4 linked regions of the Homo sapiens genome follow. The main gene of each other region encodes a partner of the protein of the gene in region 3 in a complex. Each region holds a gene or a part of one and is shown on either strand. Other genes may lie near its edges.

Region 1 (7,292 bases), on a different chromosome or scaffold from region 3:
CATGCGTGGGTATGTACATTTGTGGATGTGTGGACATTTGTGGATATGTGGACATTTGTGTGTGGATATGTGTGCTTGTGTGGGTGTGTGCACACGGTGTGTACATTTTGGTGTGTGAATATATGTGTGTGTGGGTGTGTACATGCGTGGGTGTGTCCATGTGGGTGTGGGTGTGCATGTGGGTGTGGGTGTGCATGCGTGGGTGTGTACATTTGTGTGCATGTGTGCATTTGTGGGTATGTACGTTTGTGTGTGGATGTGTGCCTGTGTGTGTGCATTTGTGGGTGTGAGTATGCGTGTGTGTGCATGTGTGGGTGTGCATGCATGGGCATGTACATTCATGTGTGGATATGTGCACATGTGTGGGTGTGCATGTGTGGGTATGTATATTCTAGTGTGGATATGTGTACACGTGGGTATGTCTGTGTGGGTGTGCATGCATGAGAGTGCACACGTTGCTATATGGCTCTGAGCCTGCTGAGTCAGGGCCAACCCTCTGATCACCCTCCTGTAGCTCCAAGAAGGAGGGCAGTTATTCACCCTCCACGCCGTTCCTTCCTGGGTTCGGGGGCAGCTCCCCGGAGGCTCAGGTACCCACCTTTCCTGCAGGTGTCCAGGCTCCTCTGCCTACCAGTGGGGTGGCGACCATCACCAAGGTGTGAGGGGCGGGGGGACCTGCCTGGGGGCTGATCAGGCTGCTCCCGGGAAGCAGGGACTGGAGCCCGGGCTTGGGCAGCTGGGCTGCGGCGTGCTGATCTGTCTGTCATCGCAGGCGCCGGCTCTGCAGCAGTACCGCACTAGCGCCGGCTCCCCGGCCAACCAGTCTCCCACCTCGCCAGTCTCCAATCAAGGCTTCTCCCCAGGGAGCTCCCCGCAAGTAAGGGGCGCCGCCTCCCCCTTGGCCTGTGGGCTCCACGCTTGTCTTGTTCATGCCCCGTGTGTTCCCTGCCCACTGTCTGTCCTCATGCATCGCTCCTCATGCATGTCCTCATGCATCCCATCCCGTCCACGCCATCGGACCTGAGCTGTGCACCTACCAGGCTGCACCAGGGCAGGAACCCCACAGGGTCCTTCCCAGGAGCCGCCAGAGCCTGCCTCTGCTGAACACTAGGTGGGGGTGTGCGTTAGTGACATTAGCGATGGCTGTGGCCCTGCCTGGATGTCCTCATTGAGTGGCCCAGGGACAATGCCCTCCACACCCAGTGTGTCACCCAGAGCATGAGCTGGAGCTTTAGGGACCCCCCCGACTTGGGGGTGCAGCTGAGGTGGCTGGCCCGCCCGCAGGGAAGGCGCTGACTCTGCAGCCCTGCTTTCCCCTTCACCCCATAGGCAGCTGTGTTTCTCCAGAACCACTGGCCCAGGAGGCTTCTCTGAGCCGCTCTGCAGTGTCTCAGGGCCCTTGTCCCCATTCCACAGACGGGAGACTGAGGTCAGCCTCAAACCTCACCCATCAGCCCTGGGTTTTCCTGTTGCACCCAGCACCGTAGGACCCTGGCTTGCTCACGCCCCAGCCACTCCAAGGTTCAGGTTCCTCGGAATGCCCCTTCGTTCTGCCTGGCCAGTGGAAGCGGCCAGCCTGGCTCCCCACTCAGCCTCCTCCTGTTGTACTTTGACATCAGGTGTGGCCAGTAGACCCCACATTCCATCTAGAACATTTGTCCGGGAGAAGGGGTGCCCACAAGGCCAACATCCAGCCGCCAACTTTTTTTACCCTGGCAGCAGAGCCTCCCCAGAACCCCGCTATCCTGGGACCATCTCATCCCTGAAATTTCACCAAGCTGAGAAACCCCTAGCAGCCACTGCTGTGCCCGGGGCCCTGAAGCCATCCCTGTCCCCTGTAGAGGGGATGCTCTCGTCCTACTTCCCAGCTAGATAAAAGAGTCGCTCCTCCAGGGCTGAGGTCGGGCTCCCTTGTCCCAGGGCAAACCGTGAGCGCCACAGACAAGGACAGTGAAGCCCCTCTGCCCCCATCTCCAGCTCTCACACGTGTATAGGGACATCTGCCCCATCAGCCAAGGGCCGTCTGGGACCACTGCCTGTAGCCCCGTGTTCTGGAGGCAAGTTGGTGGGCAGCAGTGGTCTCGGGGAGGCATGGGGGTCAGCCTGGTGTCTGCGCATGCTTGGTCTGCCCGCACTGGCTCTCTGAGCTCTCGGGCTCTGGCAGCGTGTCTGGTCTCGTCGTGTGGTACTGTTGGGGATGGGGCTGGAGGGGCTGGAGAAGCGGCAGGTGAGGCCTGTCCCAGGTGGGCAGCCCAGGTGGGGCTGGTTCCTGAGTGAGGTCCCTCTTGCATGTGAGACAGGACGGGACAGGAATTAGGAGTCGAGCCAGTTTCTCTCAGGAGAGAGTCACTGGAATGGTTGGTGAATTTTTGGGCCCCAAGCCAAAGCGGGTTAGTCTGCTGGGCAGCGAGCAGGTGGCGGTGTTGTCAAGCCCATGTCTGTGTGTCTGGTGTCCGTCGTGCGCTGATGCAGGAGGCAGGCGGCTCATGGAGGTATAGGGACATCAGTACGGGGCTCTCAGGGGCAGATGGTTCTAGGTGGAGCCGAGACCTGCCTTCCCTCTGCACTGGGTCTCCGAGGACTCACCCATCGGTCCCACAGGCCCAGACCACCCCACACCTGCTGTGTCCTGCCTTGAGTAGCCACTGTGTGCACCCTAGCCAGGCCCTGGGCCACAGGCAGCTACCATTTGGTCCAGTTTGTGGCTCTCTCCCAACTTCAAGCTCACCTTTCTGGCAAGCCCTCATGGCAGGCTCACAGGGAAACCTCAGCCTGTGTTCCCCTGTGTATGCCAGGCCTTTTTGAGCCCAAGCCCTCAGGGACAGGATCAGGCGCTGTCCTGGAAGCCTGGTCCCACCCCACACCCCGAGCCCCAGGACAGACCCAGCTTCAGACCAGCTCTACGACAGCCAGGACATTACCTATTGCCTGCCTGCCTCCCTCGCCTCGGGCAAACCAAGCCGCAAGCTTGCGGTCCTTGTTTCCAAAACCTGAAGCCGTTGATTTTTAGGGCCAAGATAGCATTTTTGCCACACGTGCTGGCCTTCCCTTCCTTGGGTCACCTTTTTACCTCTTCTCTGGCGTTTGAGTGGGACGTCCAACCTCACAAGCCTCCTCGCCCCAGGGTGAGCGTGTCTGTCTCTGTTGTCTGCCCACTGACCACCAGGAGCAACTGGTGGGTTTGTGGCCGGCCCCTCTCTGGGATTGAGGCCAGAGACTCAGGCGTTGGGATCTTCCTGGAACAAAGGGGATCTCTCTAGAACAAAGCTCAGATGGGGAGCTCCAAGGGAGAGGGCCAGGGCTTTGGGTCTGTGGAGACATTCACCTGGACGCCTTATAGGGCACATGCCTTACGCTATAGCTCTGAGAATGGCTGTGGGGCAGTGGCTTCCTGGGGACACTAGCCAGAGCTCCCAGCCCCCTGGATGCTGCCAGGCCTCCAGCAGCCACAAGGTCACACTGCAGCTGGGGTTCCCGAGGCCTCGTCCACGGCCACCCCCTCCTCGCCTCCACACCCCAGCCAGACCTCATCCCACCATCTCTTGGGGAGGGGCTCCGAGTGTCTCCTTTCTAGCGTCTCCACCACCCATAAGGTCCCCTAGCCCCCTGCTCCTGTCAAGGGACAGCCCCTGTCACCCTGCCTCTGAGAGCCCTGCTGGCCTCAGATAGCAGGAGTAGGGCCCCGGGTCCTGCAGGCTGGCAGCCCTGGGCAGGGGCTCTCCCTGTGCCTGTCCTGTGCTCTCTCAGCTGGTGGCTGGCTCTGTGCGCCCATCCTGTCCATGTACGTGGCCTGCGTCGTGTCCTTTGTCTCCTGTCAGGAGTCACCAAGTGCACTTTCTGTCCTGAATGTAACGTCTGGGCACTTCCCGCCTTGGCCCTGGTGACAGGTTCTCCTCTGGGGCCTGTTGGGTGGGGGTTCCTCATCCCTGTGGCCCCCAACTTCCCTGTGATGGAGATAGAGGCTGCCTTACCCAGGCTTGAGGAGAGGAGATGGGGATGGGGCCTTGGGAAGGGGCTTTCGGGTTGCAGAGGCCTCCCAGGAGCAGGTGGCAGAAAAAAAGTCATCCAGGATTGGGGGGCACTTCTGGAACCCCAAAATAAGCATCATCATCAGCCTCCTGCCGTCTGGGAGGTTCCAGGGGCCTCTTGTCTTCCAGCCGGGCTTGGGAGGTGCCGACTTCCCACCTGGCCTCAGGCCGTGACCACAGCAGGCCTCTCTTCTGTCTGCAGCACACTTCCACCCTGGGCAGCGTGTTTGGGGACGCGTACTATGAGCAGCAGATGGCGGCCAGGCAGGCCAATGCTCTGTCCCACCAGGTGAGCGGGCGCCCAGGCTGCCAGCCGGCCGGTGCCCAGGACAGATGCTTGCTGGGACCCTCGCTGGGACCCGGGCCTTGCGAGTCAGAGCTGCACGTGCTCGGGGGGCCCGTGCCTGCCCCTCAGCTTTGCCCCTCGGCCCCCGCCCCGTCCCATCTGCGGGCTATGGAGGCTGAGTCCCCGGCAGGGGTGGCCTAGCGCTGCCTCCCCTGGCATCTTTGCCCACCTACAGAGCGGAGGCCGAGGGCAGAGGGTGAGGGGGGGCAGGCAGCAAACGCCGGGCCAGACAGGGATGGGACCGTGGCTGTGGACGCGGCGCCTCGGCATGGACCGTGCACGCGGGTTTGCCGGGAGGTCGTGCTGGCTTTGCGTGGAGGCCAGGATCGGGGGCATCCAGGGGGCTTGGTGGCAGCCTGGAGCTGCTCACTCATTTGCTCATCCATTCATCCATTCATCCAGCCAGTCTCTAGGGTGGCGGGGAGGCCCCAGGTGGCGGGTGGAGTGGGGTTCGTGCTTGGCAGCCTGGGTGCCGAGCATCCTGCAGGGACAGAGTCCCCAGCTGCGGGCAGGACAGCCACAGCAGCCAAGGGCTTGGGGTGGCCAGCTGGGCAGGCCCGCGGTGGCCCTCACAGCCTGGTGTGCCTCCCTTCCCAGCTGGAGCAGTTCAACATGATGGAGAACGCCATCAGCTCCAGCAGCCTGTACAGCCCGGGCTCCACACTCAACTACTCGCAGGCGGCCATGATGGGCCTCACGGGCAGCCACGGGAGCCTGCCGGACTCGCAGCAACTGGGATACGCCAGCCACAGTGGCATCCCCAACATCATCCTCACAGGTGAGGCCAGGCCGGGGGCGCGTGTGCGGCGCCCCAAGGGGCCTCAGCCCGTGCGGAGACAGCCAGAGACTGCTGTCCCGCAGCAGGAGGGTTGACAGGGCCGGGGTTGTGACCCAAGCTTGATGGGGGCCTGAGGAGGCCACACCCCCTCTCCCCTGAATTTGACTCACTCCTGGGCTTCGGGCCAGGCCAGGCCAGGGAGATGCCTCTGGACCAGACGTCCCGTGCATAGGATAGAGACGGTCACTCTCCCCTCTCGGCGGCCTCCTGTCTGGCCAAGCAGCCCGGGTAAAGGTGAAGCAGCCGGGTACACGGTGCCCACTGCCCAGGCCACTGACCTGTCAGCTGAATGTGCACCAGGGTCAGGGACGGCTGTGGGGTGGGCCCTGTCTGGTGAGCCCAGCCTGGGCAGCCAGCTAACAGGTCAGGGCCGTGATGCACCGTGACAACCACGCCCAAGCAGTCTGAGCACGGCGCCTGGGCTCCTGGGGACAAGCCAGCCCCGTCCTGCATGGCACATATCAGGAAGACCCGGCTCCATCTAGCACAGAACCCAGACCCTGTCTCCCTGCTGAAGAAGATGATTCCCTTATGAGTCAGGGCTGCTGGATTGAGGGTGATGCGCCCCCTGGCAGTCCTCACTGGCCTCTTCCAGGCTGGAAGTGTCCGTATTTAGTGCTCCCCCACTGTGGCCTGGGCTCTGAGTGCAGAATCCAGCACCTCCTTCCCACCCCTCGGGTGTAGGCAGCAGTTGACGAGAAATTCAAGGGTGGACGCGCCAGCCTCAGACTCAGGAGAAGAATCAGAATCTGACCCCCGCAATGGCCTCAAGAGCCCAGAAAGACAGGGCGTTTCAGCCCCATTTCTCAGACCTGGAACCTGAGTGTAGGTGGAAGCCTAGGTTTGAACCCGGGTCTTTGTGGGGGAACTGAGGATTCCCTCCAGCCCTAGCAGCAGCTGGGTCCCCACAGTCACTCCAGCCTGCTTCTCAGTGACTCGTGCCGAGCAGCCCTCATGGCTGAGGGAGCCGGGGAGGTCCCTGCCCTCGCCAGGTCATGCTGACGTGCATCAGTGACACAGCCCTTGGCCCGAGGCTTCTCCTTGGTGCTCCTGACATCTGGAGCTGACATCTAGGGCCAGACTGGTCTCTGGGGTCCAGGCACTGTAGGGTGCTGAGCAGCATCTCATGTGCTGGCCCCTCCCCCAGTCATGACAGCTGGAATGTCCCCAGACATTGCCAGCATACCCAGGGGACAGAGTCGCCCGGCGGGCATGCCTGGTCCGACACATGGATGCGAGCGATGGAGCCAGGGCTAAGCAGTGCCTTTTGTCCCCACCCCATCCCCCAGTGACAGGAGAGTCCCCCCCCAGCCTCTCTAAAGAACTGACCAGCTCTCTGGCCGGGGTCGGCGACGTCAGCTTCGACTCCGACAGCCAGTTTCCCCTGGACGAACTCAAGATCGACCCCCTGACCCTCGACGGACTGCACATGCTCAACGACCCCGACATGGTTCTGGCCGACCCAGCCACCGAGGACACCTTCCGGATGGACCGCCTGTGAGCGGGCACGCCGGCACCCTGCCGCTCAGCCGTCCCGACGGCGCCTCCCCAGCCCGGGGACGGCCGTGCTCCGTCCCTCGCCAACGGCCGAGCTTGTGATTCTGAGCTTGCAATGCCGCCAAGCGCCCCCCGCCAGCCCGCCCCCGGTTGTCCACCTCCCGCGAAGCCCAATCGCGAGGCCGCGAGCCGGGCCGTCCACCCACCCGCCCGCCCAGGGCTGGGCTGGGATCGGAGGCCGTGAGCCTCCCGCCCCTGCAGACCCTCCCTGCACTGGCTCCCTCGCCCCCAGCCCCGGGGCCTGAGCCGTCCCCTGTAAGATGCGGGAAGTGTCAGCTCCCGGCGTGGCGGGCAGGCTCAGGGGAGGGGCGCGCATGGTCCGCCAGGGCTGTGGGCCGTGGCGCATTTTCCGACTGTTTGTCCAGCTCTCACTGCCTTCCTTGGTTCCCGGTCCCCCAGCCCATCCGCCATCCCCAGCCCGTGGTCAGGTAGAGAGTGAGCCCCACGCCGCCCCAGGGAGGAGGCGCCAGAGCGCGGGGCAGACGCAAAGTGAAATAAACACTATTTTGACGGCTGTCTTTTA
Region 2 (8,224 bases), on a different chromosome or scaffold from region 3:
CCAGATGTCAAGCACTATAAGTATGGGGAATAAAATGTGGGTAAGATATCATCCCTGTTCTCAAGGAGCATCCAATCTAGTTATAGGCAAGTAAATAGGAACTTAAAATTCACAGAGCTAGGACAGGGTGCAAAAAGAAAACAAAGGAGTAATATCCAACTCAGCCCTGATGATTTGACAGTTCAGGTTGAGTGAGTCTAGAAGGATGAGTAGTGTTGGACCAGGCAAAGAAGGATGAAGGGACTAGCATATCCAAAGAGCCTCAGGTAAGAGTAAGAGAACACAAGTCGGATGTATCTACGAATAATTCAATAACAAATCAAAGGAAGAAATCAAGATATGGAGATATCCACATGAAATGTCCAGCAGGCAAGTAAAAACGTAGGTTTTGAGCTACCAACAGCATATCCAGATATGAAACATACTGTATTTTCAATCTTGTTTAGAATCATTGTTAGTGGCTATTTAAATAAGAATTGGAAGAACCTTACATATCAGCTAGATTATGTACACTTCCACCTCCTCCTATCACTTCTACTGCAAAAGTATCTCTAACTTAAAGTCAAAAGCTGTTTTATGTAAATATGCAAAAAGGACAAGTGGGGGCTGTGGTAAGGTGGAGATACATGACCTGTCTAAAGAAGGGAGCCATTTACTCAACTCCAGCAGTTTAGTGCCTCGCTTGAATACAGGCCCTAAATGACAAGACCTTCCTATTCTTCAAGAAAAGCCGAAAATTCAGGTTTTATGTAATATCTCCCATTTTCAAATATTAGCAACTAATTACATTTAAAAATAAAACAACACTATGCCAGCCAAACAAAATGCTTTTGTGGACAGATTTCAGCAAGGGCCACCAGTGTGGCAGAATTAAACAACGTCTGTCAACTCCTACAATATTCTTTCCACTGCTTCAAAGGATCCTCAGCTGATACCTTGGTGATTCCCCTGGGAAAGGAGCTGCTTTTGCCTCTAAGCAAAATGGCCCCTATTTGGCAATGCTTTATGAGTTCCTTTACACGTTTTTAAACAATTTCCGTGTCTCCCCTTACTCTATCCGGACACCAGCTTCTAGCATCACAGAGACCTCCTACACCCCTTCCATTACAAGCTAAGAAGTCAAACTTGCAAGTAAAGCAAAAGTAAGGAGTGAGAGCCTGAAGGGATTTCTAAGGAGTAAAGTATGTAAGATATATGGCATCTTTTCTTCTGTTTTTTAAAAAAAATTACATAGATGTTTGTGACTAGTCAGACACTTGAAGGGGAAAATGTCCGTAATTTAAGCCAGAAATATATGAGCAAATTCTCCTGAAAAACCAAATAGTTTCCACTGTAAGACAGCAAGAGGGACCGGAGGAGAACAGGGCAAAAGGGAAAGTAAAAGTTACTGGCCTTTGAGAAATATCAGACACCTTTTAATGTTTAGCATAAAAGGTAAAACATAATCTCCATTCTTAGTAGAAGCAGTTAGCATGAAACATTCTTTGAGCAGCAAGAAACTGGGATTTAGAAACACTATTAGAAGAGTAAAGCAATCTTTACAGAAAAGGTAAATGAAGAAAAGAAAACAAAAATAGTCTGGTTGTCACACTGCTGCTTTAGAAGCTTTAAAAACGTAAGAACACTTCCTAATTATACTAAAACATTTAAAAGCACAGATCGGGGGTATGTAACTTCAGGTAACAATGTAGCAAACTTAAACATACAAAGGCTAAAAATTCTTAACAAGCCAAATGACAGCACCAAGAATCTCGAACGCTGCAAAAACAAAACAAAACCCCCCTGAAATTGGTAGCATGTGCACCAGCCCCTGTTAATCGGAGGAGCGGGGGAAACCAGGAGAATGAGGAGTGAATACTGACGGCGAGCAGAGCAGGCCACGTTCCTACTGGCAGGCGAGCTCGCAATTCCTTTGAGCAAGCCTTACGGCCAGGGCATTCTCAAGCCACTAAAACCAGCGTACTGGACACCTAAAACGGTAGGCTGACAGCAGCTCCGGGCTAAGACCAAGAAGACGGAAAAGTGGCCTGCTTTGACCTCCGCTGAAAACTGAGGCTCCTCCAACTGTTGTTGTCCTGGAATCAAAGGGCAAAGCATTCACCTCTCAGGGGTTGGATTATCCGGATAAACTCCCCCCGGCTCCCTGCGGCATTCCCACACACCCGGTGGATGTCAACACCGAGAGCCAGCCGTATGAGGGGGGCCTCTCCGTGTGCGCCGTCCTTTTGGAGACGCGGCGAGACCGGGAAGAAAGACGGCCCTGCGCGCGCCCCGCCTCCCCAGCCCTTCCCCAGCGCCCGCGCTGGGGGGCTGCGGCCGGGAAGCGGGGTCCCGCGTGCTCCTCACCTTTTTCAGCGCAGGCACCAGTAGTCCCCGCCACTTGGGCGCGTTCTCTTCGCTGAAAAACTCGTAGGGCAGCTGCTGCGCCTGCATGGTGCCCCCGGGGCGCCTCTGGGCGGGGAGAGGGGCGGCGGCGGCCGGGCCAGGGAGCCGCGAGAGGGCGAGCTCGCAGCGCGGAACAGGGCCGCGGCCCCACCGGACGGCCCGGCCCCCTCCGGGCGCCGCGCAGCCGGGCTAGCCCTGGCGAGGGGGCTGGGGGGCGAGGCCCGCGCCTGGCCACCCACCCGACACAGGTACCAGCCGTGGAGAACGGACGCGGCCCGGAGGCGGCGGCATCCCGCACCACCGCCCCGGGGCCAGGCCCCCCGCCCCTCCCCGGCCCGCCGGCGCCGCCCCGGGCTGCCCTCTGCCGCGGCCGCCGCCCGCCCGCCGGGGCTGCACTCCCGGGCCCGGTCTGGCCCCGCGGCGGAGCTGGCGGCTGGGGGAGGACGTGTGGAGGGACGCTCCGGCCGCGGCGCCCGCTCCGCGTAGTTGGGACTCCGAAACGCAAGAGCCCCGGGCGGGGCGGAGCTGGGGCGGAGGTCTCGCGGGGAAGGGGAAGGACCGGAGGTCGTTGTTGGGGAATCTGGCTGCCCTGAGGTGCCGCCGCGGCCGCCGCCGCCACCGCCGCCGCCGGTGTAGCGCTGGAGCTTCCTACTAGCGAACTGAACCTGCTCGCTACTGAGCATGCGCTGCCGTGCTGGGCTGGTTCGCTCCGGGTTTTCCGGCTCCCGGTGAAGGAGGAGGAAAGCTCGAGAGAGAAAGAGAGAGAGAGACAGGGAGGGCGCCCGGCCGGGCTGTGGCTGCGCTCCTGGGGGCTGCAGGGGAGGGGCGAAGGGGCCCGAGAAGTCGCACCCTGGCAAAGTGGGGCCTGCAAGGGTGGGTGATGACTAGGGTAAAGAGGCTCCCCATTGTGTGGCCTGGCCGTGAGGGCTCCCACCCTTCTCGGAGTCCCTGGGCCCTTCGTTTCGGAAAGGGGTGTGTGTACTTTGTTCCTGAACACGAAGATAAGGACTGCCCAGAGCACGCAATGTATAGTAAACAGACTGGACAAAAGACAGGTGCTCTGTCACGAAACCTACTGCTCAGTATCTGCTGAGTAGTAGAAGTGATTGCGGTGTTTCTAAGTGGTCTTTCCACAAAATAATAAAATGTGTACGTGTAGTATTGATTTTGTGTGAATGTTTTAGATTCCCTCTGTTCATCTTTTAAACCCACTCCAGAAATGAACTCCAGTAAGCACTTTCCTCCAGTGGATATCGAGACCTCTTTTACAGCTCCTAGAGCACTGCACTTATGCCCCTCTCAGGGCGTTCAGTCTATTGTGTTTTGTTATCTTTTGCGGTTCTTTCGACTAGATAATAAACTGGAAGGCAGATCTTTTTCACCAGGGCCTCTACACAGTGTAGAACAGGCACTCAGTCAATGTTAGTGGAATGCTAAAGGAGCAGTATTTATAAACTGTCCCTCCAGGCCACTGTTTGTTTATAATAGGGGCACTTTGTGGCAGACACCTTATGATTTATCATTAATTATCATTTTTTTGAGTATCATCTCATTTAATCCCCATAGCAACCCTATTATTTTCATTTCACCGATAAGAAGGCAGTTTAGAGGAACTAGCCTGGGTTAAAGCTGACATTGTGTCCTGCTATTCCTGAGAACAGTAACCAGGATCACATAAACGAGAAAGGTTCAGTGGTTCTTAATCTTTACAGGACCTCTTTGAAAATCTGGAAAAACAACTCTTAGGTTATTTCCTTTAAAAATACACAGGCCGGCCAGGCGAGGTGGCTCATGCCTGTAATCCCAGCACTTTAGGAGGCCGAGGCGGATGGATCACCTGAGGTCAGGAGTTCCAGACTAGCCTGGCCAACACTGTGAAAACCTGTCTCCATAAGAAATACAAAAATTAGCCGAGCATGGTGGTGGGCGCCTGTAATCCCAGCTACTTGGGAGGCTGAGGCAGGAGAATCGCTTGAACCCAGGAGGCAGAGGTTGCAGTGAGCCGGGATCATGCCACTGCACTCCAGCCTGGGCAACAAAACCAAAACTCCGTTTCAATTCAAAAAAAAATATACACACACACACACACACACACACACATACACACAGACCGGCCGGGCGCAGTGGCTCACGCCTGTAATCCCAGCACTTTGGGAGGCCGAGGTGGGCGGACCATTTGAGTTCAGGAGTTTGAGACCAGGCTGGCGAGACCCATCTTTATTGTTTTATTGAAAAAATAAAAATATACATACTTGGTTTACATTTGAAAAACTCCCCACTTTCAAAGTGTGTGGAATGAAAGCTGGAATTATAGGCGCCTGCCACCACACCCAGGTAATTTTTGTATTTTTATTAGAGATGGGGTTTCACTGTATTGGCCAGGCTGGTCTCGAACTCCTGACCTCGTCATCCACCCGCCTCGGCCTCCCAAAATGCTGTGATTACAAGCCTGAGCCACCGCGCCCGGTCAGCCCTCTTCAAATATTTAAAGGGTTGTGATATGGGGGAAGAGATTGGTTTGTATGGTTCCAAATGAACCAACATCAAGCCTGTACCCCAAACTATTGCTTGGCTTCCCATTGCTCTTAGAATACATTTCAAACTTCTTACCGTACCCCACAAAGGCGTGCATCTGGCTCCTGCTCACATTCTCAATGTTTTCTCACCATTCACAACCTCGCCTCACCACACTCCAGTCACAGTAGCCTTCTGTCTATTCCTAGAAAACAACAACCTGCCTAAAGAACATTGTTCTTCTCTCAGCCTAGAACCCCTAACTGTTCCCTTGGCTGGTTATAAACATCACCACCTCCAAGAGGCCTTCTCCGATCACTCCAAGTAATTCTCACCTGTGTATTTCTACCTTATGTTCTTTTTATTTCCTGCTAGCACTAAATCAAATCAGTCCTCTATTTTTGGTTGTTGGTTTCCCTCCTGCCCCCAAATAAAATGTAAACTCCTAGAGAGAGAGAAACAATCTTTTTTTTTTTTTTTTCTTTTTCTGAGACAGAGTCTCATTTTGTTGCCCAGGCTAGAATGCAGGCGGAATCTTGGCTCACTACAACCTCCACTTCCCAGGTTCAAGTGATTTTCCTGCCTCAGCTTCCCGAGTAGCTGGGACTACAGGCGCACGCCACCAAGCCCGGCCAATTTTTGTATTTTTAGTAGAGGTGGGGTTTCGCTAGGTTGGCCAGGCTGGTCTCGAACTCCTGACCTCAAGCAATCCACCCACCTCCGCCTCCCAAAGTGCTGGGACTACAGGCGTGAGCCACCGCGCCCGGCCGAGATCAACAATCTTGTGCGTTTCGTTCTTCATTGGTTTTAATCGTATCCCCGGGGCCTACAATGCCTGCACACAGTAGGTAGCAATAAATATTGTCGAAGGAATAAAATGTGCATGCAGGAAAGTTCCAGGACTACATAATCAACGTTGTTTCCAGAAAACGGGCGATTTTCGGGGTGTGCAGGTAAAAAGCGTACATTCACTCACTCGGGCTAAGAGGTTGGGCATGTTGACCTCTAAGATCCCCTTCAACTCCGAATCTCTGATTTGACTGCAGAGGAAAACAAGCCCTAGAAACATGGGTTACAGCCTGGGCTAGGCTTGCTTAGCGGCCAGGGCAGGTTTTCACTAGCATGGCCGTTTGGGCCGTAGACAGGGCGGGTAACTGGAGAGAAACTGCAGTGAAGAGACTCAGTGCTTCGCAGCGGGGAGACCTACAGGGAGTGCCAGGGTCAGCCCCGCTAAGGTCAAGGAGCACTCCATCACCCCTGTACTGCTTGCCTGTATCTCTTGGGACAAAACAAAACACCTATGTCCATTCAGCAAGAGAAGACAACCGTGCGGACTCAGAAACGTGCAGACGGGTAGGCACGTGTAGACGTAAAAGTGTCGCCCACCAATCCCCCGCGCCAGCCCCTCAGCTTTTACCGCCGACGGGTGCGCCCTGGCGCAGGCGCAGAGGCTTCTTTTCGCTTCCCTCCTCAGCTCTAAGGAGCCTCACGCCACGGCGGACGTGACGCACGAGGCGCGTCCGGGCGGAATAGGCGAAGACCGAGAGGGGCGCGTCCAGGCGGGCTAGCCGAGTTCCGAGCGCGGCGCATCGGAGTAGGGCGGCGAGGACGGGGGCGGGGGTGGGCGTTTGGCCCTTCAGTGTGCCCCCTGCAGGTGCAAGTGCAACGCTCCGCGCCTTTGCCTGCCCTGCTGGCCAGGACGCGGCCACCTGGTTCTCTGCCTTGCTGCAGCCACAGTGATCCTTCTGACGCGAACTTCGGACCCAGCTACTTACTTTTCTGTTCAAGAACTCACACTGGCGTCCCAGGATAAATTCCAAAGTCCTTAACCTGGTATCCATGGCCTTGCACAATCGGACCGCTACTTATCTTTCTAGCTGTATCTCTCACTCAAAATGAACTGCTCTTGCCTCCTACAAACACATCACTTCTGTCTCTGTCTCCTGCTATTCAGAATGCCTGTCGCCTTTTTTCTCTAATGCCGCCCACCACAGCCCCACCCCAGCTCCCAGATACACGCTCGCGCTGGAACTCTTATCCACCCTGCGCGCCCTCAGCTCAAATGCTACCTTCTCTCTAAAGTTTTTTTTTTGTTTTCGGCTCTGATTCCTTCAGAGCCGAACAGGTAGAAGGAACAGCAGTTTCAGCCATCAGCAGTTAAGGTACTCTCTCCTCCAGAACATATTCACCCTCTGTCTTTCCCTCACCCTCTGTCTTTCCAATGCCTCCTTTCAATTCCTCTCCTCCAAAAAATGTATCTCCAGGAAACACACCAGAGAAAATAGTGACTGAGAAGAACACTAGATGCCCACTCTTTACTCACCTTTAGCTAATACTTTGAGTCCCCCGCCCTCTTCCTCCCTCTCTGTTTCCATCCCTGCCTTTGCAAAGATGGTACAGTTAGAAGAGATTATCAGAGGTTCTCCAAGACATATGGGACTATTCCTCGCACTTCTTTCTCGGGATTTCTGCAGGGAGCTTATAGGATATGCCCAAGTTTATCTTCTAAGAGAGAAGAGAAGACTTTTTGCAAAAGTCTCTTTCCAGTTGATTCAAGTTGTAATAGCTCCTCAAATTGATCACATCCAAATGCAATGTGACTTTAACGAAATTCCCAACAGGGATTGTCATGGAATTTGACAAACTCATTCTTAAAGGTATATGAAAGAGCAAAAGGCTAATTCTCCTGTAAAAGAAGAAGGTAGGGGAACTTGATTTACCAGATGTGAAAACTGATTACGTAGCTAAAGTAATTAAAACAATGGATATTAGCACAAGAACCTACAAACCAATTGATCAGTAGACAGCCAAATATATAGAAACCTGATACCGTAAGCATTGCAGATAAATAGGTAAAGGCTATACTGTTCAATAAATGAAATAATGTGCAATAGATAAATGCACATAGAAAAAATATACTTGTAACTCCCACCCTACGCAAAACAATCCCATTGGATTGAAGAAAGTGCAAAAAGCAAAATTATAAAACTCTGAGAAGGCTGGGCGCCAGTGGCTCACGCCTGTAATCCCAGCACTTTGGGAGGCCGAGGCCTGTAATCCCAGCACTTTGGGAGGCCGAGGCATGAGGGCAAGAGATCGAGACCATCCTGGCCCACATGGTGAAACCCCGTCTCTACCAAAAATACAAAAAAATTAGCCGGGCGTGGTGGCGCATGCGCCTGTAATCTCAGCTACTCGGCAGGCTGAGGCAGGAGAGTTGCTTGAACCCGGGAGGCGGAGTTTGCAATGAGTCGAGATCGCCCCACTGCAGTCCAGCCTGGATGACAGAGCAAGACTCCGTCTCAAAAAAAAAAAAAAATCTGAG
Region 3 (7,901 bases):
GGAGTATTTAAAATTTTTCCCATCAAAATAAACAGACTCAAAATTATACCTGTGGTAAATGAGTTTTTTAAACCTGAAACCTAACTGCCTGTGAAAGACTGTTCACATGAGGAATTAAAATGCAGCCTCACAAAAGGATAGTCAAAAAAGGGAAAAAAATTTAGCATACTCAGCATCAGAGGTAAACTTACAGCCATTAACACATCAGTGTAGCAAAACTTAAAATTTGTTCAGAAGACCCAAATTTCACATGTCAAAATTACTTCCAAAAGCTGCCTCAAAAACTACCCCTAATCTTACCTGATCAAAATCTCAACTCATTTCCAATACCACTAAGTGATCCAAAATTAAGCAGCTTTTCTTCCTTTAGTAAAAGCATTGTTTACAGAGAACATCTGGATTTCTATCATATTTCCAGAATCATAATTCATATCAGTTTAATGTAACTCACGTCTTTTTACTTTCATAATACTCTTGTCAAGAGTGATTACATTTTAGCTTTAGTGTTACCCCTACCCCAAACCTACTAGATCTCTGCAACAACTGCCAGCCAATAATAGCATAACAATTTGGGGGGGAATGACCAACTGTTTGTTTTCAGATATTTTGAGTATAAATCCACCACAAAGGATCAATATCTGACCCTAATGTCTCAACTCTTTATCTTGTTATATGTCCACATGCTTTAAAAATATCCGCAAGTCATGACACTTCAACTCTTACTGTGAGTACTAGAATATATCACATTGGAAGTACTTAATTTATAAGTGTTTCCAATGTCATCGCTCCAGTTGAAATGCAGAAGTGCTGCATTTTGCTTCTAGCCATCATAATGTAATTGGATGTTACCACTCAAGCTGTCCTTTACCATGACTACCCATCTAATTCTCTTTCCCTCGCATTTTAGTTTCCTGGACCTTTTCGATTTACCTCAGCTACATTTTTCTGGAAAGATACCCTTTTGCAAGTTGCCGAACAGCACAAAGATACTAATCCACACAGTGACACCACAGAATAAATGACTTCAGAGGAAAATACACACCCTGAATGAAGTGCACTTTTAAGTTAGAAGGTGAACAGAAGAGTCCACCTTGGCAGCTGGCTCCCGAATATTAATCATCTTTTACCTTCCCAGGGAAATCCCACAATATTTTTTTAACCAAATGAGAGAACAGGTCGCCACATTTTAAACAAATAATTAACCACTTTGGATGCAAGGTACTGGCTCAATACGTAAACTATTTAACCTTTATGACGGCATTATTTTCGTCAGGTCTCTAAATTACTGATTTTTCCCTTAGGATCTCAGAAACGCTCTCTGGTTATTTCTGCTTCTAACAAAAAATGATTTAAGCCAGTACAAAGGATTCTCTCCCCAATCACTTCGGTACAAGAGGAAGTGGATAAGGTTTCTCACACAGTAACGAGTGCTCCAAGGCCTCGCCTCTACACTGCGGGCAGGACTCACCGCACCCATTTAACCCTTACCTGACTTGAGACGTCGGTTACTGTGAAACGAAAACGGGCAGACCCGGACTTTAAAGTGCAAATTCTCCGGTCCGCGTATCGCAACCACCCCCCTCCAGGCTCCGCCCAAGTCGGAGCCACGGCTCAAGTCCCCGACTCTCCTCCTTTGTCATGGCGGATCTGTGTCAGGGAGCCCAACCTACTGCAGAGTGTTAATTCCTCCCCCCGACCGGAGCCAGAGGGAGGAGCAGCCCGCGCCCCCGCCCAAGCCGTGGGGGGGGGGGAGAGATGGGGAGCGAAGCCGCCCGACCCCGGGGCAGAGACGCCACAGCAGCCCGCAGAAGCGGAACCACTACCAGCCCCGCCGCGGACACACCCCGCTCTCCCACCCAGCGCCTTCCCCGCCACCGATCAGCGCCGGTGACCGTGTACAGCGTCTCTAAGGGACCGACAGCTGCAGGTGGGGGAGGGGACGAGAGCCACACCCAGCCGAGCGGGCCACCAGCGGCTATGCTCAGGCTCACCCGCCCCCAAAGCAGGATATGCGTCCCCAAACCGAGCGCAGGGACCCTCCAGTTCTAGTCCATCAAGCACGGGAGCCGACTGCGGGCTCACCACCCTGTTCTCTACCCCGACCTGGACTTGCAGCCCCCGTCCACACCTCCCCCGCCCGTTCACAAGGAGCAAAAAAAGTCAGACCCATCCCCCACCCCCACCAGGAAAATTCAAGTCCTTCCTCCCACCGCGGAGCCCAGGAAATTCAGCTCTAGGTCCCAGGCGAGCCCCACCCCAAAACCTCACCCCGCAGTGGACTCCCCTCCCGCCGGCGCGCAGCCTCGCCCCGGTCTACCTGGCGGGCGCCGCCGCGCCAGGCCTGGGCTCCGGCCCGCTCTCGGCCAGGCCTTTCCCTCGCGCTTGGGTCCCCGAGGCCCCCGGCCCCTCCCCGCCGCGCCACCGCCTCCCGGGGTGGGGGAGGGCCGGGTCCCGCCGCCGCAGCGCCCAGCGCGGAGGCTGCGCGAGGGGGAGGGAAAGGAGGGGGCGGCCGAGGGAGAGGGGAGGGGGCGGCCTCACCTGCGCCACTGCGATGCCCGCCGCCGCCGCCGCCGAGTCATTATCTCGGGCGGAAGCGAGAAGGGCGGCGAGGGAGGGGGTGGAAGCCCGCAGAGACAAGGGTGGGGATGGATCGCGGCCGGCGGCGCCCCGGCCATGCCTCGTCCACCTTCGGGAGCCGGCGACAGGGAGATCCCCAGGGATCTCGCGTGTGGGCGCCCTACCCACCCCCGGGGGCAGGACGGGGGAGCGAGCACCGATCGGCGCCGGGGCGTCGATGCGGAAGCAAGGAGCCGGAGGCGGCCGCTAGCCGCCCTCCCGAGCCCAGCGGAAGAGGAGCCGCCGCCCGTGTCCGCTGAGGAGACTCCGCCTCAGCCCGGCGCCGCCACCGCGGGGCGAGTGGGGATGAGGGGACGGAGCGAGGACGGCTCCCACGCGTTCGGAAGGCTGGCCTGGGACAGGAAGCGAGGCGCGGCGGCGGCCGGGTTCCTCACCTGTGTCCGGAGTGGGTGGTGGCGGCGGACGGACGGGCTCAGCAGTCTCTGGGCGGCGGCGGCGGCAGCAGCGGCGAGGCTGAGACTCTGTCCCTGGATCTCGCTGCTCACAGGCTACAGCCGCTCCGCAGACACGGGGTTTCCTCCAATCACCAGCCCCGGCAGCAGGGGCACCACACGCACGATGACGTCAAACGCTGCTATGGCAACCGTTGATTGGTGCCCACAGCGATCGGGGCCCCGCGTAACCGCCGCTCCCCGGCGCTCGTCCTGCCCGCCCGCGCTGGAGGGCGAGCGGAGGCGCGCGCGTCCTCGCCCGCAGCCGCCACTCCTCCCACCCCGCTCGGCTTCCAGCTCCTCTACGCTTGTCCCGAGTGCACCTAGGGCAGGAGGCTGCTTTTTTCCTTTTCCTCCCCAACGCAAATCCCCCACTCCTCGCCTTCCCTTTGGGTCCCCAACGCCCTCTCTCTCCCTCTCCCCTGCAGCCTCTGCCGGCCCACTCTTCCTCTCAGCCGGCGGGAAGGCGTTCTCTCCCTACCCCCACCTTAGCTTTCGCTCAGCCCGTCTGCGCTTGCCCCAGTCACTCCCTCTGGAAGGGGCTCCCGTTCAGCAACATCCGGGACCTTTCACATCCCCCCACCCCTCCCCGAGGCCCGGCCCGCCCCACCCTCCGTGCTTCGCGGTAGTAACTGCCCCAGGGCCGTCCCCGGGCAGGATGACAAGGGTGGCTCGGCGGCTCCGGCATTGTGATCAGGACTTGCGGGGCGGGGGCCCCGGGGCGGGGGCAGGGCGCGGTCGCACGGCAAGGGAGGGTTGTGTGTGGTGCGCTGCCCCCCGCCCCGCCCGCCGCTCCCCTTCCCCGGCTGGGCCGACCGGGGCGCGCGGCCCCTCCCGGCCTCCCTCCCGCCGCCGCGGCTTTACCTGCTGGCTCGGGGGAAGCGGTCCTAGACCTTTTATGGCTCGGAAACGGGAGTGAGGCGTCCAGCCCCTGAGTGTGGCTGAGTGATGGGGAGGCGTTCCAATCGAGAGCGCGGGATCTGCGCTCGGTGACTGCGCGAGGGGACAATGGGTGGGCGCCGAGGTGGGGGCGAGGTGGGCCGGGCCGGGCGGAGCCGGCAGGAGGTGAGGCCTGGAAGGAGGCGCGGCCGCTTTAGGGAAGCCAGAGTTCCGAGGGGAAAGGACAGCCTTCTCGGGCGGAGGGCTGGAGCTGGTCCTGGCAGCCTTGACCCGGAGACAGGCAGTCAGGCGTGACCGCACGGACCCGTTTCTCGTAGGCTAGGTTTTCCTACCCAAATAAAGCTTTCACGTGAAGACCTCATACTGCACATGACGATCATTACCTTTTTATCTCCTAGAAGCAAGGTTTGAGGGACGTCGTAGTCCCCAGGGTTCCAGCTGGCGGTGGGAGTGGGCCACAGGCCGGGTGATGAGCCGGGACGGGAGCCCGGAAGAAGGGGAAGGAGAAAGGCGGAAATTGCAGGTGCCTGAACCGGTAGGGCCTCCGCCCAGTTGACTTCAGGAAGTTCAGAGAGAAACATTCACAGTGTGAATGATCTCTGCCCCTTCCCTCTTTAAATGTGTTCGGGCTAAGAAAAGATTAGTGCTTGGATGACCTGCAAAACCACTTGCAACAGCCATGGAGAGTGTACGGTTAGCAATGAGAGAGCTTGGAACTCTTCATTTTACTCTTGTGTAAACTCCCCATTGATTCTTCCAACGTATCTTTATTGAGCTGACCAGAGCCTCCGTTTAGCCTCATGTTCTCTACAGAATTTAGTTTCTCAGTAGTAGACACGAAATGATTGAGTCCTCGCTCTTCCAGTACATTGTCTTTCCTACATAATACAGTGGACCACAAGGCTGCTCTACAAATTACTTTTTGCCTGACATGACAGCTGGCATTTAGATAGTACAGACCAGAAAGAGGGTTTCCAGTGACCAGTTATATTTTAGTGGGTTTTTTTGTTGTTGCTTTTCACAAGTTGCCAAATCACAGACTCATGGTAGGTTAAATGGATAAACAAATTGGAGTTTTATTTCTGAGATGTTAGGGTCAACTAGCTTTGACTCCCAAGTAAATTCTTTTAGGGCGTGACTCACTTAAAATGAGTAATATTTCAAAAGCTATTTTTTTTACAGTTTTTTCGTAGGCACCAGAAATTTGACAGAGGATACTAAGTTAAACGTTTTTTTAAAATGGAAATTGATGTTTCTTTAATGTCTCAAATATATGTCTATGTAGAGTATATGCCTTTTGTTTTAGAGGAAGTTAAGGGGTTTTTCTGTATAAATATGGATTTACTTCAGGAAACAGCTAAGTTAGGCTTTTGCCTCATGCTTTAATAGCAAGGCATTTTTTAGTGCAACAATAGGCACTGTTAGGTTTTACATACTCAAGTCAATGTGTCTGCACAATAAAGATATAATGAAGCTGCAAGAAAGGAACGGGATGTTATGAAAGCCCTGAGGAAAAGATCTTTTAAGAAATAAGGAATAACCTGTGGCATACAGAGCAGAATAAATAGAACCTATGAACCCTGGGAACTTTGCTGGAGACTTTCACTAATACCCTGACCTGTATTTTCTTCAATGCGCAACTCTTACCTCACTCAAGTTGGTTAACCTCTATGTGCTTTGATAGCCACGGCAATAAAATACTGGCAACAAAAACACTTAACTCATCAGGTGATGCTGAGGATTAAACGAATATACACATACATATATTTCTTAGAGTAACCTAGCTATTATTCATTTGTAAATGGATATATCTGATTGATATCTCTAGTGTTCAAAAGATTGTAAAGATAAAATGAAACTATTTTCTTTTTGATTTTTAGGAAACTTCAGTAGCAGAAAGAAACCATATTTTTAAAGTATCTTTTAGAAATAGAAATGCCTATTTGTGTTTCTTAGTGCTGAGACATGAGTGATGAGGGTGAATATTGATTCATTCCTCTATAGGGGACTGCAATGATCTCTTCAAAGCTATACATCAATATATAATGCTATACATTAAAATGAGAAAAAGCCCAGGCACAGTGGTTCACTCTCATTATCTCAGCACTTTGGGAGGCAGGCAGATAGCTTGAGTCCACGGGTTCAAGACCAGCCTGGGCAACATGGCAAGACCCCTTCTCTACAAAAAATACAAAAAGTAGCTGGACATGGTGGCATGTGCCTGCGGTCCCAGCTACTGGGGAGGCTGAGGTGGGAGGATCATTTGAGCCCGGAAGGTAGAGGCTGCAGTTAGCTGTGATTGTGTCACTACACTACAGCCTGGGCAACAAAGCGAGACCCTGTCTCAAAAATGAAACACTAAAATGGGAAAGAGTTTAAGTGAATTAGCACAAGTCCATCCCTCCAATTGGGAAAACATCTCCAAGGATGGACTCTGTTGATGATGTGGCAGTTATATGATATTTTAAGTGTAATCACAATTCTGTCAGGCTATAATTTCACTTCACTGTGTTTTATTTGGAGAAATCCAACATATTGCAGAAGGTTTTGCAGCAGAACAGGGACTAAATCTTGGTTTGTCATTCAGAACTGTGTGACCTTAGGTTTCTGAATTGGACATACCAATTTCTAATCCCATTATAATGGTTGTTGCAATGATTTCATGAGAAAGTAAGGAAAGGGCTACCTACATGTAGTACACCAGATCATGTATATCTGTTGTTGAAATAATCTGCAGTTAGTAGCAGAGACAAGCTAGCTATTCACCAAACCCATTTTTCTCCTCTTGCTGCCCCAGTTGGACTCCATTGCCCATTCTCCTTTGCAATTACATGTGGCCATGTTACTGAGTGCTGGCTAATGGGGTATGACCGCAGGCATGTGCTCCACTTGCAGGCCTGGCCCATAAAAATCTCCCTGTTTGAATGTTCATTCCATTCCTGTTTTTCCGGCTGAATGGAGAGGATTCCCAGGGCTTAGAGGCAGTGAGGTCATAAAATGAAGACAGCCTGGGTCCCTGGAAGCCTATGAAAGCCTGCCCCAATCATTTTGGAGTTTACTGAGGGATAACTTCTATTTTAGGCCGCCGCAATTGAGAGTTTATCTGTTAAAACAGCTAGCACTATAATGTCCGTGAAAGTAATTGGCAAATCTAAAAGATGGGAAAGATTTTTTTTTAAATGAAAGAAAAGGGGAGGAAAAATGAGAGTAAGGAAAGGGAAACTGATCTTTTGATAAAAGGCAGTTGAAAGAAATACAGGCCAAGTGCAGTGGCTCACGCTTGTAATCCCAGGTCTGTGGGAGGGTGAGGTGGATGGATCACTTGAGCCCAGGAGTTGGAGATCAGCCTGGGCAACATGGTGAAATCCCGTCAATACAAAAAATACACAAAATTAGCTGGGTGTATGTGCCTGTAAATCCAGCTACTTGGGGGGCTGAGGCAGGAGGATCGATCACTTGAGCCTCGGAGGTTGAGGCTGTGGTGAGCTGTGATTGCACCACTGCACTCCAGCCTGGGTGACAGACTGACACCATCTCAAAAAGAAAAAATAAAGAAAAACATAAGTATTCTCAACTATTCTGTTGACTTCTAGAATTGTGTCCAGCATGGGTGGGTTCTTGGTCTCACTGACTTAAAAGAATGAAGCCACGGACTCTCTCGGTGAGTGTTACAGTTCTTAAAGGCGGCACATTTGGAGTTGTTCATTCTGATGTTCGGAGTTTCCTCCTTTTGGTGGGTTCCTGGCCTCGCTAGCTTCAGGAGTGAAGCTGCAGACCTTCGCGGTGTTGCAGCTCATAAATGCAGCGTGGACCGAAGGAGTGAGCAATAGCAAGATTTATTGCAAAAACCAAAAGAGCAAAGCTTCCACAGCGCCAAAGAGGACCCAAGGGGATTTCCACTGTGGTCTTGGGCAGACCTGCTTTTATTCTCTT
Region 4 (7,200 bases), on a different chromosome or scaffold from region 3:
ACCCTGCCTCAAGCAAGCAAACAACAAGTCCCTCAGGGGTGGTGTAGGCTGCAAATGGAAGGAGCTTGAGTCCCAAACCTTCCACGGAGAAGGCTGGCTACCAACCTGGATCACTCACCCAAGACTGCTCGAAGAGTTGGTTTGAACCATTGTGTTTTGGGGTCTATTTATTACAACAGTTTAGCTTGCTTTGTGAATAGATTTAGTGGCAGAGCCTCCAAATTCTATAGATACATTGATCTCAGTCCTAACCGCATCTGGAACACCATTAAATAAAGGAATTGCAAACCCAGAGAAGGTAATGAATTTGTCTAAGGTCATACAAGATGGCTAGGATCAGGACCCAACTCTCCAGTTTTCTTTCTTCTCTGCTATTCTGCCTTCTGTGATCCTACATAAGTGGGCATGATTGTATAACATATGCGGCCATGAGATTTCTCTTTCAGCAAGAGAAAGGGACAGGAAGAAAGAGAGGGAATGCATTTTCTTGGCCTGAATTAGTGTGAGCCATTAGTTACCTACATTGACTAAATTATCTGGAATGAACATTCAACTCTACATCACATATAGTTAAAATGACAGATCTGCTTAAGATTGTTTCTAGCATACGTTATTTCAATTTAGGCAAATGTGACCATTCAGTGTGAGGGGACCATACTGTCATTAGGTCCCTGTCAGTTCTCAATTATACTGTTATCTTAGAGGGGGAAAAATGTGAAATTTGAATGTAGACGAGTGTTGATTTGACTGCTACAGTTTATTTTACGTATAGAAATAAAATAATGTGTAGCAAAAGCATTATTACAAAGATGATAATGAAATAACTAGTATTTATAATAGTATAATAGTATAGTATTTATAATAGTATGATAGTTTAATGACTATTTGTCAGATGTTGTGTAAGAAACTTTATACACACACACACACACACCTCATTTAATTCCTGTATCAATCAGGATACAGGACGCTGTGGTAACAACTCCTCAAATCTCGGTGGCTTGCACAACAAATGCTTATTTCTTTTTTTTTTTTGACACCAAGTCTTGCTCTGTAACAGGCTGGAGTGCAATGGTGCAATCTCGGCTCACTGCAGCCTCTGCCTCCTGGGTTCAAGCGATTCTCCTGCCTCAGTCTCTCGAGTAGCTGGGAACACAGGCACGCGCCACCACATCTGGCTAATTTTTGTGATTTTAGTAGAGATGGGATTTCACCATGTTGCTCAGGCTGGCCTTGAACTCCTGACCTCAAGCGATCCACCCACCTCAGCCTCCCAAAGTGCTGGGATTACAGGCATGAGCCACTGCGCCCAGCCCCAAATGTTTATTTCTTGCTCATGTGACATGTACTTCCTCGAGTTTTTCCTTCCTGAGATCTAAGCTGAAGGAACAGCTCTCTGGAGCCACGCCATTCTGGTGGCGGAAAGGAAGAGTAAAAGTGGTAGAACCTTGCAATGCTCTTGAAGCGCCTATTTGGAATGTCTACATCATGTAAATGGTAATGGACAAGTATGTATAATCCCCACACCAAAAAAAGGGGACACTATTGGGGACAATAACCACATTTCAATGCTGCAAGACGGATATTGACTGCACCCCCTTCCCACTTTCAGAAAGAAGAAGAGTAATTTTGCTGAACTCCTTCTAGAGACTGGAAATGTCCCTTCCAGTTGGGGTGATTAGGGAAGGCTTTGGTAAAATTTGAGCTAGAGTTTGAAGGTTAGGTAGACTACTGGTGGGTGAAGAAAGAACAAGGACCTTTGTAGGCAAAGGAAAACCTCAGAATTACAGAGGTGGAAAAAGAGTTCTAGTCAAGCCACTTCAGCTGGCTACAGAGTAGGTGGGAAAGAAAATGGGAGGACAAGGGCTCAGATGATGGGGGGTTGGGGCATTGGGGGGACACTTGAAAGCTAAACTAAGGGGTTGAACTTAATTTAGGAGGCAGTTAGAAGCTTTTACATATTTTTGAGCAAGAGAGTGACATAATTAAAATGATCTGGGCCAGGTGTGGTGGCTCACACCTGTAATCCCAGCACTTTGGGAGGCTGAGGAGCTTGGGTCACCTGAGGTCAGGAGATCGAGACCAGCCTGGCCAACATGGTGAAATCCCGTCCTACTAAAAATACAAAAATTAGCCGGGAGTGGTGGCATATGCCTGTAATCCCAGTAGCTGGGAGGCTGAGACAGGAAAATCGCTTGAACCCGGGAAACAGGTTGCAGTGAGCCGAGATCGTGCCACTGCACTCCAGCCTGGGCAACAGAGCGAGACTCCATCTCAAAAAAACAAAACAAACACACACAAAAAACCAAAAATAAATAAATAAAATGATCACTTCTGAATACTGATCTAACTAGGGGTTGCAGGGTGGGCTGATATAGGGAGAAACTGGAGAGCAAGGAGATCACTAAGGTCCCTACATGTCCAGAACCAAGATAGAGGTCTTGAACTAGGATGGTGGCAGTTAGAACAACAACAACAAAAAGTCAATTCCAGGCTGAGTGCAGTGGCTCATGCCTGTAATCCCAACGCTTTGGGAGGCTGAGGTGGGAGTTAGAAAGCAGCCTGGGCAACACTGCAAGACCTCCTCTCTAAAAAAAAAAAAAAAAAAAAGTTAGCCAGGTGTGGTGGTGCCCACCTGTAGTCCCAGCAACTCAGAAGGCTGAGGTGGGAAGATTGCTTGAGCCCCAGGAGTTCAAGCTTGCCGTGAGCTACGATTGTGCCACTGCACTCCAGCCTGAGCAAGACCTTGTCTCCAAAAAAAGGTCAATTCCACTGACTTTTCTAAGGTGTACACCATCAAGGGGCAGCTCCATCTCCAGGCCATTGGCTCATGAGACATTCTGTAGTCAGAAGGCTAGGGCAGATTGCTTTGAGCAAGCCCCCATGGTGGTTCTCACTCCTACTTCTTTGGGTATATGCCCCTCTGTTTAAAAATAAAGTTAATATGCATTTAAAAAAAAAAAGGAGAAAAAGGTCAGTTCCAGAAACTGTGTGAATAAAGCATTTTACTTGCTTTTTCTATTAATCTATAACATATGTTGATTTTTTAAAAAGAATATAAGAGCTATGCAAATTGGAGCTTCAAGACAACTTCCCATCTCCCTAGGAGGAGATGGCTGCCCTAAACCCCCCTACATAGAAATCATCCCACTGCTTGGGCTTAAACTTGATGTTGGGGAAATGAAAAATCCAAGCTAAGGCCGAAGCCTGGGGCCTGGGCGACCAGCAGAATGAGGACCACTGGTCAGTTTCAGGCTGAGGTGCGTCTTCCAGGGGACAATCTCTAGCTGGCCCTTAAACATTCAGACTTCAAGCTCTATTTACAGCATAAAGGTGTTTCAAAAGACGTGATACAAATAACTGCAAATGCTCTGCGATGTGTTAAGCACTGTTTGAAATTCGTCTAATTTAAGATTTTTTTTTCTGACGTAACGGTTAGATTCACGTTTCTTTTTTTTTAAGTACAGTTCTACTGTATTGTAACTGAGTTAGCTTGCTTTAAGCCGATTTGTTAAGGAAAGGATTCACCTTGGTCAGTAACAAAAAAGGTGGGAAAAAAGCAAGGAGAAAGGAAGCAGCCTGGGGGAAAGAGACCTTAGCCAGGGGGGCGGTTTCGGGACTACGAAGGGTCGGGGCGGACGGACTCGAGGGCCGGCCACGTGGAAGGCCGCTCAGGACTTCTGTAGGAGAGGACACCGCCCCAGGCTGACTGAAAGTAAAGGGCAGCGGACCCAGCGGCGGAGCCACTGGCCTTGCCCCGACCCCGCATGGCCCGAAGGAGGACACCCACCCCCGCAACGACACAAAGACTCCAACTACAGGAGGTGGAGAAAGCGCGTGCGCCACGGAACGCGCGTGCGCGCTGCGGTCAGCGCCGCGGCCTGAGGCGTAGCGGGAGGGGGACCGCGAAAGGGCAGCGCCGAGAGGAACGAGCCGGGAGACGCCGGACGGCCGAGCGGCAGGGCGCTCGCGCGCGCCCACTAGTGGCCGGAGGAGAAGGCTCCCGCGGAGGCCGCGCTGCCCGCCCCCTCCCCTGGGGAGGCTCGCGTTCCCGCTGCTCGCGCCTGCGCCGCCCGCCGGCCTCAGGAACGCGCCCTCTTCGCCGGCGCGCGCCCTCGCAGTCACCGCCACCCACCAGCTCCGGCACCAACAGCAGCGCCGCTGCCACCGCCCACCTTCTGCCGCCGCCACCACAGCCACCTTCTCCTCCTCCGCTGTCCTCTCCCGTCCTCGCCTCTGTCGACTATCAGGTAAGCGCCGCGGCTCCGAAATCTGCCTCGCCGTCCGCCTCTGTGCACCCCTGCGCCGCCGCCCCTCGCCCTCCCTCTCCGCAGACTGGGGCTTCGTGCGCCGGGCATCGGTCGGGGCCACCGCAGGGCCCCTCCCTGCCTCCCCTGCTCGGGGGCTGGGGCCAGGGCGGCCTGGAAAGGGACCTGAGCAAGGGATGCACGCACGCGTGAGTGCGCGCGTGTGTGTGTGCTGGAGGGTCTTCACCACCAGATTCGCGCAGACCCCAGGTGGAGGCTGTGCCGGCAGGGTGGGGCGCGGCGGCGGTGACTTGGGGGAGGGGGCTGCCCTTCACTCTCGACTGCAGCCTTTTGCCGCAATGGGCGTGTGTGTGTGTGTGTGTGTGTGTGTGTGTGTGTGTGTGTGTGGAGGGGTCCGATAACGACCCCCGAAACCGAATCTGAAATCCGCTGTCCCTGCCGCTGTTCGCCATCAGCTCTAAGAAAGACGTGGATCGGGTTCTAGAAAAGATGACTCCCTGCACGCCCCTCCCTGCACCTCCCGAGCAGTGATTCCGACAGGGCCTTCACTGCCCCTGATTTTAGGCGGGGGCCGGCCCCCTCCCCTTTTCCTCCTTCAGAAACCCGTAGGGGACATTTGGGGGCTGGGAGAAATCGAGGAGATGGGGAGGGGTCCACGCGCTGTCACTTTAGTTGCCCTTCCCCCTGCGCACGCCTGGCACAGAGACGCGAGCAGCGCCGTGCCTGAGAACAGTGCGCGGATCCCACTGTGCACGCTCGCAAAGGCAGGGTTCACCTGGCCTGGCGATGTGGACGGACTCGGCGGCCGCTGGTCCCCGTTCGCGGGCACGCACAGCCGCAGCCACGCACGGATGGGCGCGGGGCTGCAGGTGCATCTCGGGGCGGATTTCTTTCTCAGCGCTCGGAGCGCAGGGCGCCCGGCGTGTGCGCTCCCTGCCGGAGGCGCGGGGCTGGCGCGCAGGGCTCGCCCCTCACTGCGGCAGTGGGTGTGGACCCTGGTGGGCGAGGAAGGGGGAGGATAGGCTGTGCCTCCTCCCACTCCCGCCCCCAGCCCCCCTTTTTTTCCCCCTCGGAACGCGAGGTGCCATCTTTTTTCGGCGTGTCACGTCTTTACGGTGCCATGCCAAACCGGGTGGCCGGGCTTCATAGGACAGGGCGGGGCCTGGCATTAAAGGGAGGGGGACAATCAGCGCTGAAATCTTGGCGTTTTGCTGCTGCGGGCGTGAGCACTGGGGGCGTTCGCCCAGCACCTTCTTCGGGGGCTCTTTGCTTTGTCTGTAGAGGTTACGTGATCTGCGCTCCCAGCCCTGGTTTCTGGCTTTTATTCTGAGGGTGTTCAGTCAACCTCCCCCCTACGCCCATGCGCCTCTCTTTCCTTTTTCGCTCCTCATTTCCGAGCCCATTGTTGGATCTCGAGGCTTGCTGGGTTCGATGAACTCGAGTCAACCCCCCGACCCCCGGCACGCATGGAACGGGCGTGACCGCGCGCAGCCTCGTCTCGGAGTCTGCCGGCGCCGGGAAGCTTCTGAAGGGATGGGATTCGAGTCTCCGTGCGCGCTGCGGGCGGCGGCAGAGGGATCTCGCCCCTCCCTACACCCCAAGTGTCCTGAGGGCCACGCCACACCAGGTTGCCCAGCGAGGGACGCTGGCTACCCATCCGGGGATGGGTGGGGAGCCCTGGCGGGGCCTCTCCGGCTTTACGCCCTGTTGCTTCGCCTGGCCGGAGAATGTGAGGAAGGGGCATAAGGTTACTGGTGCTTCGGCCACACCCATCTTTCTGAGCCCACTGGACTGGGCGCAGAGGGGGGATTGCCATGGAAACCACAGGTGTCCGGAGAGGGGATCTTGGGGCTGGCCTCACCCCTTCCCTGCGGAGATTGGGGACCCTGGGGTAGGGGGAGCCGCGCCCAGTCGGCCTCCTGGAGGACACGGGAGGAAGCCCCGAACCCCCGCGCCTGAGGCTGTTTCTGATTGGCCCCTGGAGGCCGCAGACACGCAGATAGGCGGCCCTGGGTGTATTTTTATTAATATTATGTCCGTACTGATTAATATTATTTATCTTAAATAAATTTCACCCGTGTCCAAGTTCACCGCGCCCCCAAAACCGAGTCTGGGGCGGCAGGGGGAACTCCTGGCCAACGAATCCATGCCTCGCCCTCCTGTGATGAACCTGGTACGCACGGTTTTCTGGTTAATTCTATCGCTGAAAACTGGTGCGGGGGGCGCACTTCTGAGACGGAAGAGCATCTAGGAGCTGAATCCTCCACGCGGGTCGCCCAGGTTGATCTGAATTTCTGGGGAATGGCTTGGCTGCCCGCCCGGGACCAGGCCGACCCTCCTTGACGGTGGCGTAGAGGGCTGGAGCCTGGGTACTGCGAGGCTCCTCGCATGGCTGGGCCCGCCGCGAGGGGTTGCAGAGCGGCTCAGGGATCGATTCAAGCATCGTCTCTCCTCCCTCGCCCCCAGACAGAGCTGGGCGCGGGGTTCCCCTTCCAGATGGAGCGAGGGTCTCGGGGTGGCCCCGGAAAAGGGGAGCCCGCGGCCACGGCTACGTATTGCCATCTCGCGAGCAGAGATGTCACCTCCTGCCTTTGGAGGAAAGGGAGCCCGGTGGGGATGAGCGCATTTAGCCCAATGCTGGGAACAAAGCGCACTCCGCGCTTCTGCGATTTCGCTCCATTTTGAAATGTGTTGGCGCTTTGGTGGGGCCGCTGCGGTGGGCAAGGCCGGGGGCGCTGTTAATGGAGGAACCTCAGGGGGACGGTCCTTCGTAGGAAACTCTATCCTGGCTCTGCGCGCGCTTTAAGGAAATGGCTTCCCTCCAGGACCTCGAGGGATGCAGCTTTTGCGCGGATGACGGTGGGGTGCTGAACCAGCCGGTGCGCCTCTGGAAATGTCTGGGCACGGATCCTGGGGCCATCGACGACTCCTCCCC

Evidence for each region.
Region 1: the proteins of YWHAZ (region 3) and CRTC1 are in contact, whole or in part, in a crystal structure (PDB 7D8P), measured with the Homo sapiens proteins. Residues at the interface, in NP_001129171.1 of Homo sapiens: Asn42, Val46, Lys49, Arg56, Arg60, Lys120, Arg127, Tyr128, Glu131, Gly169, Leu172, Asn173, Val176, Tyr179, Glu180, Leu216, Ile217, Leu220, Asn224, Leu227, Trp228; in NP_056136.2 of Homo sapiens: Arg147, Arg148, Thr149, Asn150, Ser151, Asp152, Ser153, Ala154, Leu155, His156.
Region 2: the proteins of YWHAZ (region 3) and SOS1 are in contact, whole or in part, in a crystal structure (PDB 6F08), measured with the Homo sapiens proteins. Residues at the interface, in NP_001129171.1 of Homo sapiens: Glu14, Asn38, Asn42, Ser45, Val46, Lys49, Arg56, Arg60, Phe117, Lys120, Arg127, Tyr128, Ile166, Gly169, Leu172, Asn173, Val176, Glu180, Asp213, Leu216, Ile217, Leu220, Asp223, Asn224, Leu227, Trp228; in NP_005624.2 of Homo sapiens: Arg1157, Arg1158, Pro1159, Glu1160, Ser1161, Ala1162, Pro1163, Ala1164, Glu1165, Ser1166.
Region 4: the proteins of YWHAZ (region 3) and MAPT are in contact, whole or in part, in a crystal structure (PDB 8QDV), measured with the Homo sapiens proteins. Residues at the interface, in NP_001129171.1 of Homo sapiens: Glu14, Leu43, Ser45, Val46, Lys49, Arg56, Arg60, Lys120, Arg127, Tyr128, Glu131, Gly169, Leu172, Asn173, Val176, Glu180, Ile217, Leu220, Asn224; in NP_058519.3 of Homo sapiens: Ser637, Cys639, Gly640, Ser641, Leu642, Asn644, Ile645, His646, His647.

What each region holds. Positions count from the first base shown.
Region 1 is NC_000019.10:18,770,670-18,777,961, forward strand, and holds part of CRTC1 (CREB-regulated transcription coactivator 1), read left to right. Parts: intron 1-772; coding exon 773-877; intron 878-4,230; coding exon 4,231-4,317; intron 4,318-4,971; coding exon 4,972-5,152; intron 5,153-6,501; coding exon 6,502-6,713; 3' UTR 6,714-7,292. UniProt on the Homo sapiens protein: Transcriptional coactivator for CREB1 which activates transcription through both consensus and variant cAMP response element (CRE) sites.
Region 2 is NC_000002.12:39,117,990-39,126,213, forward strand, and holds the start of SOS1 (son of sevenless homolog 1), read right to left. Parts: upstream 3,063-8,224; 5' UTR 2,434-3,062; coding exon 2,347-2,433; exon of another isoform or gene 2,102-2,346; intron 1-2,101.
Region 3 is NC_000008.11:100,948,918-100,956,818, forward strand, and holds the start of YWHAZ (14-3-3 protein zeta/delta), read right to left. Parts: upstream 3,104-7,901; 5' UTR 3,012-3,103; exon of another isoform or gene 2,539-3,011; intron 2,396-2,538; exon of another isoform or gene 2,269-2,395; intron 1,655-2,268; exon of another isoform or gene 1,489-1,654; intron 1-1,488.
Region 4 is NC_000017.11:45,890,440-45,897,639, forward strand, and holds the start of MAPT (microtubule-associated protein tau), read left to right. Parts: upstream 1-4,114; 5' UTR 4,115-4,247; intron 4,248-5,040; exon of another isoform or gene 5,041-5,074; intron 5,075-5,343; exon of another isoform or gene 5,344-7,200. UniProt on the Homo sapiens protein: Promotes microtubule assembly and stability, and might be involved in the establishment and maintenance of neuronal polarity.